Regions from separate parts of the Homo sapiens genome. Here region 1 is linked to region 2. The links come from fine-mapping of genetic effects on gene expression. A gene starts in region 2. The other region holds a variant in brackets. All regions are shown on one strand. Distances are from middle to middle. Region 1 has its middle 21 kb from the start of LINC01187. Region 2 holds the start of FOXI1 (forkhead box I1).

The links.
Region 1: its variant is fine-mapped to the expression of FOXI1 in whole blood (TOPMed, PIP 0.95).

Annotation. Positions count from the first base shown.
Region 1 is chr5:170,175,821-170,181,190 of GRCh38, reverse strand. No RefSeq gene overlaps it. Among named protein-coding and RNA genes, the nearest start is that of LINC01187, 21 kb to the left of the region's middle. The variant G/A (reference allele first, on the strand shown) is at 2,193.
Region 2 is chr5:170,103,618-170,108,987 of GRCh38, reverse strand. FOXI1 (forkhead box I1) reads right to left here and starts at 3,091. Exons shown (of 2, transcript NM_012188.5): 1 at 2,457-3,091; 2 at 1-939. The coding sequence starts at 3,030. The coding sequence ends at 377.

The DNA.
Region 1 (5,370 bases), 72 kb before region 2:
TCCTGGCTAACACAGTGAAACCCCGTATCTACTAAAAACACAAAAAATTAGCCGGGCGTGGTGGCGGGCGCCTGTAGTCCCAGCTACTTGGGAGGCTGAAGTAGGAGAATGGCATGAACCCGGGAGGCGGAGCTTGCGGTGAGCCAAGATTGTGCCACCGCACTCCAGGCTGGGCAACAGAGCGAGACTCTGTCTCAAAAAGAAAAAAAAAAGGGTCTATTGAATGTATTTTTTGTCTCTGAATTGTTCACTTTTTTCTAAACACATACATCATTTTTTTTTGTAATGAAATGAAGTTGTTAGAAGGCCACTTCACAAACAAGTCCTCAGTGAATGAAATGAGTAAATGAATGAAATCTGATAATCCTACCATTTGCAATTCACTCTTTTGAGACAGGAGGTGTTTTCCTGTTCCAGATTCTCTACCAATATGCAAATACCCCTGAGTGGAGCTGATAAAGCCGAAATTGTCACTGATCACTAATCTGGGGCTTGTCAGCCTCAGGCCGAGATCAAAATAAGAGTGTGTGAGTGTGTGTGTGTGTGTGTGTGTGTGTGTGTGTGTGTATTTGCGGGGAGGAGGAGAGAAAAGTATCAAGGTAGACATCTCTGTGTGCCTGGCAACATGCTGGGTGTCTTCACACACACCTGTGCACTGAATACAAAAACAGTCCTGCAGGGATCCGATTCACTTCTTTTTATGAACAAGGGCACTAGAGATTAAAGGGTTTATGAACATCTTGCCTAAGGTTCCATAGCCAAAAGCTGAGCTGGATGCGAATATAGGAATCTTGGAGCATCAAGACAGAGTAGAAAGGTTTCAAAGTCCCCTGATATGAGCAGACTTCTGTTTAGTAAAACACTCATGATCATCATAAACGTAGTGATGACAGCTCATATCCATTGAGTCTTAGCTTTGTTCCTTGCTGACCCTCTGCTGAGTACTTCAAATGATTTATTTTAATTAATCCTTACAAGGACCCAAGGATGGGAACCATTATTATTCCCATTTTATAAATGAGGAAATTGAGGCACAAGAAGGTAAGTAATTTGAGGAAAGAAACAAACTCAGAAAGTGAAGAGAAGGATTTTGAACGCACACAGTCTTAACTGTACCACCTGCCCTTTCAACCCCCAGGAGGACAGAGCTGTTCATTACAACAGCCCTGACCCTGGAACTGAGGCCTTGGAACTCTGGTCCAGGGCTCTTTGCACTACACCAGACTGATGTCAGTCCCCAGGTCTTGCTGAGAAACAACAGATCCATGAAGAGGGAGGCTGAGAGACTCACTCTGTGTCCTCGAGTTTGCCCTGACCGACTTTATGGAGATTCCAGGAGTGACTCTGGTCTTGTCTGGGTCATCACAGGGCATTTTGGTTTCACATTCTCCTGGGCTTACTGCTGCTCATTCCTCGTAAATCCAGCCACTGTGCAGTTCAGGCCTGACGCCGCGTGCCTCCAGGGTGGCTGGACAACCTCTTTCAGGGCTTTGTTAAGAAGGCCATCCTCAATACAAAAAATTAGCTGGTCATGGTGGCAGGCGCCTGTGGTCCCAGCTACTCAGGAGGCTGAGGCAGAAGAATGGCGTGAACCCGGGTGGCGGAGCTGGCAGTGAGATGAGATCACGCCACTGCACTCTAGCCTGGGCGACAGAGTGAGACTCGGTCCAAAAAAAAAAAAAAAAAAAAAAAGAAGGCCGTCTCATCTATCTAAGACAGCGTGTGCCAGAATCCAGCCATCTCCTTCCCAACAGAATGATTGTTGTCATTTCTGTCTATCACCTGAAACATTATTTATTTACTATTTTAATTTAAACCGAAAAAACCCTCAAACTTTATTTCTAAGAGGAAATCTCTATCACTGGTTATAAATGGACAACCAGCATGGCCATAAATAGAAGGCTACTGTAAAATGAAGATGATAAAAACAGAACAAAGCCACTCAATTATAGCTAGGCATTGCGGCTTGCAGAAGTGCTATGACTTAGCAGGCCTGCCCTCTGCTTGTTAAAATGAGAGAGCAAGAGTTGCAGAGGCATTGAGACATCCTAGCAGCTCTCAAGACTTTTCAGCTTGATACTACCTGAAGGCCTGAGAAAGAACTAGAGACACCTCCCTCTGCCTGGGGCTGGTGGTTCTGACCTAGCCGCAATGGGAAGCACCGCCTTGGGACTTCTTACTTCCTGATCCTC[G/A]GGTGTTATCTACGCAGCTCTCGCAACCTCTTGAAGGCCTTCTATGGTCATTGGCTTCTTGGGAAATGCTCTTGGCCAGAGGGCTTGTCTTGCCCAGTGATGGCCGGCTCAGCCGCCCTGTGTCTCAGACCGGCCCAGGCCCTCAGCCAGCTCCTGGGGCAACTTTGAGAGCTTTCCAAAGGAAGGGTCCATAAGGGCCACTCACGGTGGCTCATGCCTGTAATCCCAGCACTTTGGGGGGCTGAGGTGGGCGGATCACCTGAGGCCAGGAGTTCGAGACCAGCCTGGCCAACATGGTAAAACCCCATCTCTACTAAAAATACCAAAAAAAAAAAAAACAAAAAAAAAAAAACATCAGCCAGGTGTGGTGGTGGAAGCCTCTATAATCCCAGCTACTTTGGAGGCTGAGGCGGGAGCATCGCTTGAACCTGGGAGGTGGAGGCTGCAGTGAGTCAAGATTGTGCCATTGCACTCCAGCCTTGGCAACAAGAGCAGAACTGCAAAAAAAAAAGATGTGGGGGGTCTATAAGGAGGTGGCATTACCACTAATAATAGTATTGCACCTAAGAAGGGAGTGGAATTAGAGACAAACTCTTTATCTTTTCTGTCACTTGATTTTTTTATAATGACAAAATATTTATATATTGCTTAATAATAAAGACTTTTCTAAGAAAGACAGCCCGACACTCTTTCTTGTCTTGCAAGGGTTAAGGTGTCCTCTCTGGGCATTTGGGAGACAGTTCAGGTGAGCAGGCAGGAGCAGTGGCTGCTCTCCATGATGTGGCACAGTGGGTCTCATGACAGCAGTGCCATCCTCACGGGGCAGGAAACAGGTGTGGGTTCCAGTTTTTTCAGTGCTAAGGAGACAGTGTGACTTATCCTGGAATTTGAATCCAGGCTGGGAACTTGCCAATGGGTGACCTTTGGCAAATTGCTCGACCCCTCTGAGTTTTCGTGGGGATTATACAACCTACCTTGAGGAGTTGCTGTGTACATACATGATGCCCTAACCCACAATGCGTGTTTTGGTGTCTTGGCAGTCAGTACTGTGCCAGGTTGGGCAAATCACTTTTCCTTCCTGGTCCTCAGTCTTCTCATTAACGAGCTGAGGATGTGATTAGATCTGTGGTCCACAACTAGGGCCACTGGTCAAACCCAATTGCCAGACTTGTTTTTTATAGGCCACGGGGTGTTTTCTGGTTAGCTGCCAACATTTACAAATCAGGAGATTGTACATAGGAATCTAGGTTTTGTGTGTCTCCAGAGAAATCTACAAATCTGGCAGTGTTAGGCCCACATTATGACATTCACTGGGAACTGGCTAAGACAAGACTCACCTACTTGAGCTGTTTAGCTATTTAAGTTATTGGGTGTTCAATATTCACAGCAGCTGCAATTAGGAATGAGTTTAGATAGCTGGCCCCAGGTCATACAAATGTGAACAGGAGAGCCGGGACTTGAACCCACGCATTCTGGCTTTGTGTGTATTTATCTCCCCATGCTGCCTCCTGGTCAGGAAGCCAAGAACTGTACCAGGCACTGCAGAGACAGAGGTGGAGGCAGCCTGAGGCTCTCGGGGCTTTCTGCAGTCCTTTCTGTGCTGGGGAGGTGAGGGTTAACCTTACCCTGCTATCTCACTCAGGCCAGAGGCTGCCAGGATGAACTGTGCAAGAACTTGCTGGAGGTGGATGAAGCAAAGCCTCCTTTTCTACTGACAACTGGTGTTCACCCTGATAGCAACCGCTGGCCCTCAGCGGCCCCCCAGGGTGTGCGGGAACCCTGCACTGGCTCTGTTTTGCTTTGGCAGTGGAGCACACCTGCCTCCCATTGCTCCAGCCCTCCTGTTTACCCTGCAAACAGCCAAGTGCTCCACACCATCATTTAGAGGCCAGGGGGCGGCTGCCATGGGGCACCAGGCAGTCCAGTCCTGTTTGAGCTGTCCTGGGACCTGAGGGCTGCACGCGCCCAGAGCCCATTTGCCTAGGATTTAATGGGCCCCCACACCCCTGCTAGCTGCCGGCAGGAGGGAGGTAAAAGGGGAGGGTGCTGCTGGGCTCTGGGTGACTTGGCTCCTACTGAGCCCCATGACCTTGAGCCTCTGGGTCTCAATGCCTCAGTTTCCCCAATATAATCTGCCCTTCCAGGGCTCCAGAGAGCAGCAAGCTCCTGGACTCGGAAGATTCTGGTGCAGCATCTCTCGGGAGCATGGCCGTAGGACCCTGACAATTAATAACATTCATTGTTGTTAGCAGAGCTCAACAAGAGGCATCGGACTAAGGCTTTCAAAACTTGTCATTGAAGTATAACATACTTTCAGAAAAGTGTGCATATCATAATTGTGCAGCTCAATGAATGTTCACACCCCAAGCACGCCTGTGAAATTAGCACCCAGATCAAAAAGCAGAATACCGCCAGCACTCCAGAAAAAGCCCTCATACTCACCCTCCAGCCACAGCCACCATTTGACTGGCATCGTCTCTTTAGTGCTCACCACAATTCCGTGAGGTTGATACCAAATCATTCCCATTTTATAAGCGAAGGAAGAGGGCCGCAGAGTGGTCGACCACACCTGCTAGTGATTAGGCCAAGATTTGAACCCAGGCCCTTTATCTCCAGAGTCCACACCTGAACCACTGTGCTGGGAAAAGCGGCAGGCCTGGGTTAAGGTATAGATAGGGCCTTGTCACACACCCACCCTTGCCTTCTAGGAACTTCCAGGTTCAGAGAACTGAGGTAGAAAGTCTTAACCACCCCTCACGTGTGTCAATGTTGTGTTATTTCTCACCTGTCTGTTCACATTAATAGGAGAGGGACCGTGTCTTGTTTGTTTGCCACTCAAAGCCCTGCCAGATGCCTGGAATGCAGCAGGTGCTCACTAAATATTTATCACACAAGTGAATGAATGAATGAATGAATGAGGGAATGAATGAGAAAGAAGGGAAGGAATGATGGTAGAAGGGAGAGAGGAAGTGGGGGAGGAAGACTGAGGGCAAGCTCTTTCTCCAAATTTTAAGCTCTGCCTCTCTTACCTGCCCGATGCTCGTTACCGCAGCTGAAACTTTGTTATAGGCTTCCATTTCTAAAATGTCTTCTCAGCTCAGCCCTATGCCCCCTAAGGCCACAGTGGCTATTATAATGTTTTCTCCACCTACCTGATGGTGGGCATGGGTCAGAGAGG
Region 2 (5,370 bases):
TTATATAACCCTGGAAATGTTACTTAACCTCCTTGAGCCTCAGTTCCTCATCTGTTCAATGGGGTGGTTTGTGAACCTTACGGGGTGACTGTCAATAGTAAGTGTGGCCAGTACAGAGCCTAGTACAGCACCTGCCACTGTTAGTGCTGCTCTGCAGGCACCAGTATTTCTATTGCAAAGTTGGTGAGTCTGTGTGTGGGCCTATGTGTGATAAACAGAAGCCTTAACCAGTGTTCTAGAAAGAGGGTGGATTCCTCGGAGGCTCCTGCTTATGTCTGGGCAGTTCCGCAGTCATGGACCACCGTGGGGCTGGCATGGAGGACCTCTACTGCTTTTCTCTCTGGCATGTCCACCTGGCTCAGGAGCTGTTCTGTACCTAGACCTCGGTGCCCTCCCTGGGGTAGAGGACACCACTGGTGTTGACACTGTTGTAGAAGTGAGGGCTGAATTGGCTGAGCACAGATCCTCCATAGCTGAGCATGTTGGTGGGCATGGGGTTCGCCCAGTCACCCCCACCGCTGTGGTTGCTGAGGTTGGTGAGCGGGGAGAAGGAGTTGAAGGTCAGTGAGTTCTGCCCCGTCTTGTCACTGGGCTCAGGGCTCAGTCCTGGTGTGACCAAGGGGTGGCTCGTGGGGCTCCCCCCGCTCACATAGGCTGTCATAGAGGAAAGGAAGCTGTTAAGGCAAGGGGCGCCTGATGGGGGAGGGGAGGGCCGCTTCTCTGGGGAGCTGGTGGTGCCCCCTGGTGAGGCTCCATCCAAGATGTCCTGAGGCTCCGTGGTCTTGGGGCTGTCCACCGGGAGACTGCTCTCTGTCTTCTCTAAGGCCAAGGAGGCTGTGCTAGAGGAAACATCTGATTTTCTCTTCCTTTTCCTGCGGAAATTTCCATTGTCGAACATTTTCTCACAGTTGGGGTCCAGGGTCCAGTAATTCCCTTTGCCTGATACAAAAGTGAAAGGGGGTAAATAGAGAGGTGGACAAAATGCTTTGCTTCTGTTCCTCCTTATTGTCATAAACTAAAAGCCAAGGTGACAGATGCAGGAAGACAGAGACCGACAGGCAGGGACTGAGAAATGGAGGAATTCCATCAACTGATGAACCACACCACCTCCATCTTTAATTAAGCAGCCCATGACAGGGCCCTTTGGGACTGCAGCCGAGAGGCATGAGCATTAAGGAGTTTGCAATGTAGGTCTCTTTAAGAAGGATGAAGAACTGGGAGCAGGGATGCTGAGGGATTTGGGGGTTGGGGGTTGGAGGGCTTTCAATGCTGAAGGAAAAGAAGACTCAGGAAAACTCTGGGACTCCCTAATAGCCGTAGGCTTGGAGTCTGAAGACAGACTTGAGTCCTGGCTTTGCTCCTCACTGACTGAGGGGCTTTGGAAGAACCTGTTTTCTAGTCTGAAAAGTGGGCCCATTGCCCCTGTCTTCCTCAGGCCCACTGAGAAAGGATCCACACCGGATATGGAAAGGAGCGTTGCAGCTGGGAGGTACCTTCCCGAGGGAAGGCCTGAACTCTTCCTGCTACCGTCTCTCAGCCTGAGGGTGATGGCAGTCCTTGGACAGGACACTTGCCCTCTTCTGGGGACAAACAGGCCTGGTGTTTGCCACCCTCAAATGGGGCAGAGTTGGGGTTCCTTTGAGCTATACCTTGGCTTCCTGCGGTGGAACAAAAGTGGACTTTAATTCTGGGAAATGGATGCATGAGTATTTAATACATGCCTCTCTGCAGGTCTCTGAGTTTTAGAAATGCATCGTTGAAAAGGAAAAGCTCACAATTTCTGATGTTAGAGAAAACTGAGTTCAAATTCAAGCTCCATCACTATCACTTCATTCTGTGTCACCTCTGAGTGTTATTTTCCTAATCTGTAGAATGGGTTTCATAAGAGCTACCCTGCAGGGGTGTCTTCGGGTTAAAGGAGGTTACCTAAGTAGAAACAAGGCAGGCAGCAAAATGGGCCATTAGTGGCTGTTTAACCCAGGTCAGATCCTCTTCCTGGCAGTCTTGGGATGCCCTTGGGCTTTGGTTGGTCCAGTCATTCATTCACCAAAGACTTTCTATGTGCTGGGTGCTGGAGATGCAGATGAATCGTAATTACTGCAGGCGATTAAGCGCTTGATAACACCTAAAACCTTGTGTACATTATCTCATCACCTCCACTGCAGCCTGCAAAGCAGATGCTGTCACTATCCCTGGTTTTCCGATGAGGGAACTGAGGCTCTGAGGTCTAACCTGCCAGAGGTCACTGACTGGGCAGGAGCACAGCCAGGGCTGAAACCCAAATCTTCCCCCAGGCCCATGCTCTCCTTCACTGCTGAGCTCCCCTCTGTCCTGCCTGGTAGCATCCCCCAGTCTTGGGGGGCACAGCCCTAGTCAGAACTTTCTAGAATGGGGTCTTGGGGAGGAAGGAAGTGAGTCTTCCTTGGGGACACCCCCCACACTCAAAGCCTCCTTACCCGGGTCGTCCTCGTCGCGGGGCACCTTCTTGAAGCAGTCGTTGAGCGACAGGTTGTGGCGGATGGAGTTCTGCCAGCCGGCCTTGCTCTTGTTGTAGAAGGGGAAGTTGTCGGCCACGTACTGGTAGATCTGGCTGAGAGTGAGGCGCTTGTCGGGTGCCCCGTGGATGGCCATGGCGATGAGAGCCGAGTAGGAATAGGGTGGCCGCACCAGCTTCATCAGCTCCTCCTGCGAGGGGATGGGCAGCCAGCCCAGGTCGCTCCCCCCAAGCCCCGACACGCTGGGCAGCAGCGGCCTCTGCACTCCATAGGCCTGGGGCAGGAAGGGGCTGGCGTTGGGGCCGGGCAGGTAGGGTGGCGGGGTCATGGTGGGCCCGTTGAACCAGAGGTAGGGGTTGGGGGTGGCCCCATACTCGCCGCCCCCCTCGAAGGAGGGCCGCTGAGGGCTGGGCACGCCCTGTGGGTGGAAGAAGTTCTCATAGTAGAGGTTCATCTCGGGGGGCTCCTGGCCGATGCTGGGGAACTGGGGGCTGCAGCGAGGTGGGGAGGGCGCCGGCAGGTCGAAGGAGCTCATGCTGGGGCTGGGCTGGCCGGAGCCACCTGCCTGGCACCTGCACCCCGGAGCTGCCCCTGACAGGTGCTCAGCAGGCCCGGCCTCCCACTTATACCCCTAGGGCTTGGCCGGGCGGCCCCACCCAGGGGCGGCCACCTGCCTGTGGATCCCAGCCCAGGGCCCGCCCTCCCTCAGCCTCCAGCCCACGGGGAGGGGACTTTCCCGCTGGCGCCTCAGGTCCCCACTAATGACATGCTAGACGGCTTACCAGAGCTGACACGCAGCGCAGCGAGAACGCCCCTCTATCCTCTCTCCCGGCTTTCTCTCCTGTCTTTTCTCACCATCCTCATGATTCCCTTCTTCTTTTTCTCCTTTATTCTGTCTTACTTCTCTCATTTTTTTTTCTGTCCTTCCCTTTCGTCACATTTTTCTACCCACCTCGGTTTCCTTCTCTCTCTCCCTCCTCTCCTCTCTGCATCTCATTCTCTGTTTCTTTCCTTCTTATTTTCTTTCCTCCCTTCTGCTCTGAACTGTGTTTCTTTTCTATGAACTGATCTGGCCACATCACAGCTGCTCATTCCCGTTCTCTCTCTCTCTCTCTCTCTCTCCCCCTCCCTCTCTCCCTCTCTCCCTCTGTCTCTAGGCTTCCAGTTCTTCTTTCCACTTCCATCTCTCGCTTCCATTCTCATTGTCTTCCCGGCTTCTCCCCTTTCTCCTTCTCTTTCACTCTGTCCCTTTCTCTCCACCTCTCATTTTCTCTGCGCCTCTCTTCCCATCCCCTCATTCTCCCTCCTCTTCCCCCCAATGTCCCCTCATTCTCTAACCAACTGCCCCAGCCGGGACTGGGTGGGACACTTTATCAGAAACCCTGTTTCTTGGTCTTTTGAGGTGAGGAGGCACTTTCTGGAGTTGCCAGGAGAGAACCGGCCCTGGAGACTCAGAAGAGGGCGCAGAGGGGCCTGGGCTGGCTTCTGGTGGGGTTCAAGGGGGCAACCAGTCATAGGCACCGCAGCCTCCCCCAACACACACATACACGCACACACGCGTACGCGCACACGCACACACGCGCACACGCACACGCGCACGCCCACACACGCGCACACGCCCACGCACGCACGCGCACACACGCACGCACACACACACGCATATGCATACATGCTGCAGACGGGCAGAGAACCTGAGAATTTGCCTGGAGAGCAGCAAGGCTCTTAAAAATAATAGCAAAAGGGGAAAATGGGGAATCAGTCTTCAGGGAAAAGTGAGAGAACTTGAACAATTCAAGTTTCTTTCCAGCTGCAGGGCAAGCAGGCTCCCAGCTCCTCTCTGATCCAAAGACCTTTCATGTTTCAGCTCGCAGAGGCCCCTGGCATGGAGGCAGCCAGGGCACGAGGAGAGCGCCCGACTCACCATGCCCCAGGCGTCCTCTCTCTCTCTCCCTCAGGCTCCAGAAGCAGGAGCTGCAGCCCCTGCTGGCTTCTCCCTGTGGCTCAGCCAGCTCCTCTCCTATCTGGGCTCCATCCTCCATCTTGTCCCAGCCTCCCCTGGTGCCCCAGGTCAGGCCCTCAGCTTGGGCCATGGGTGGTGGTCTCCCTACTCAGAGGGTAGGCGCTGGCCCCTGACCAGGTTCTGGTAGCAGCTGAGACTTCTCTCTGTGATGAAGCAGATGGGAGAAAAGTTGGGGTCAGCCCCTCTGGTCACCACCTCGCTCCCGCTTGCCTCCTTCTTCTTCCCATCCAGCTTCCTCCCACTTCCTGCATGCCCTACTTTCTTTGAGGCAAGAGAAAGAGGTCACTGACTGTCCCAACTGGAGAGGATGCTCCCCAAAGAATTCTTCCCCTCTCTGCTCCTCTTTCATGGTTATGTGGGGACACATGTGGCAAACATGAATGAGACTGAATAAACTTCATTTTCAGCATATTGGTGCCCAGAGGATGAGTTCCAGGTAACTGGGTAGGAGTGGTCATGTTAGGCCCAGAGGAACCTGTCCCCACCATAAAACAGTGATGAAATGTGACTCTCTGAAAGGCTCTGGCTGTCCAGATGAGGCTTAGAGTAAGGCACACTTTGCAGAGCCAAGCCAGAGGCAGAATTTTTGTTTGGTACAGTTTCTCTATGAGGAGGCCTGGCTTGCTGAAGGTGGAGCCCTGACTTTTCAAAGAGCAGTCACATTGGAGTCCCCTAGTACAGACTCAAAGCCTTACAATTAACCTAGCAATTTCACTTCTCAAAGCTTATCTTACAAAATTCAACAGAGCAAAGAATTAGCCACAGGGATGCCCACCACAGCATTGTTTATAGCGGTGAAAAATTGTAACTAATCTAAATGCCCAACAGTAGGGGATTGGCTAAATAGTGTATCAT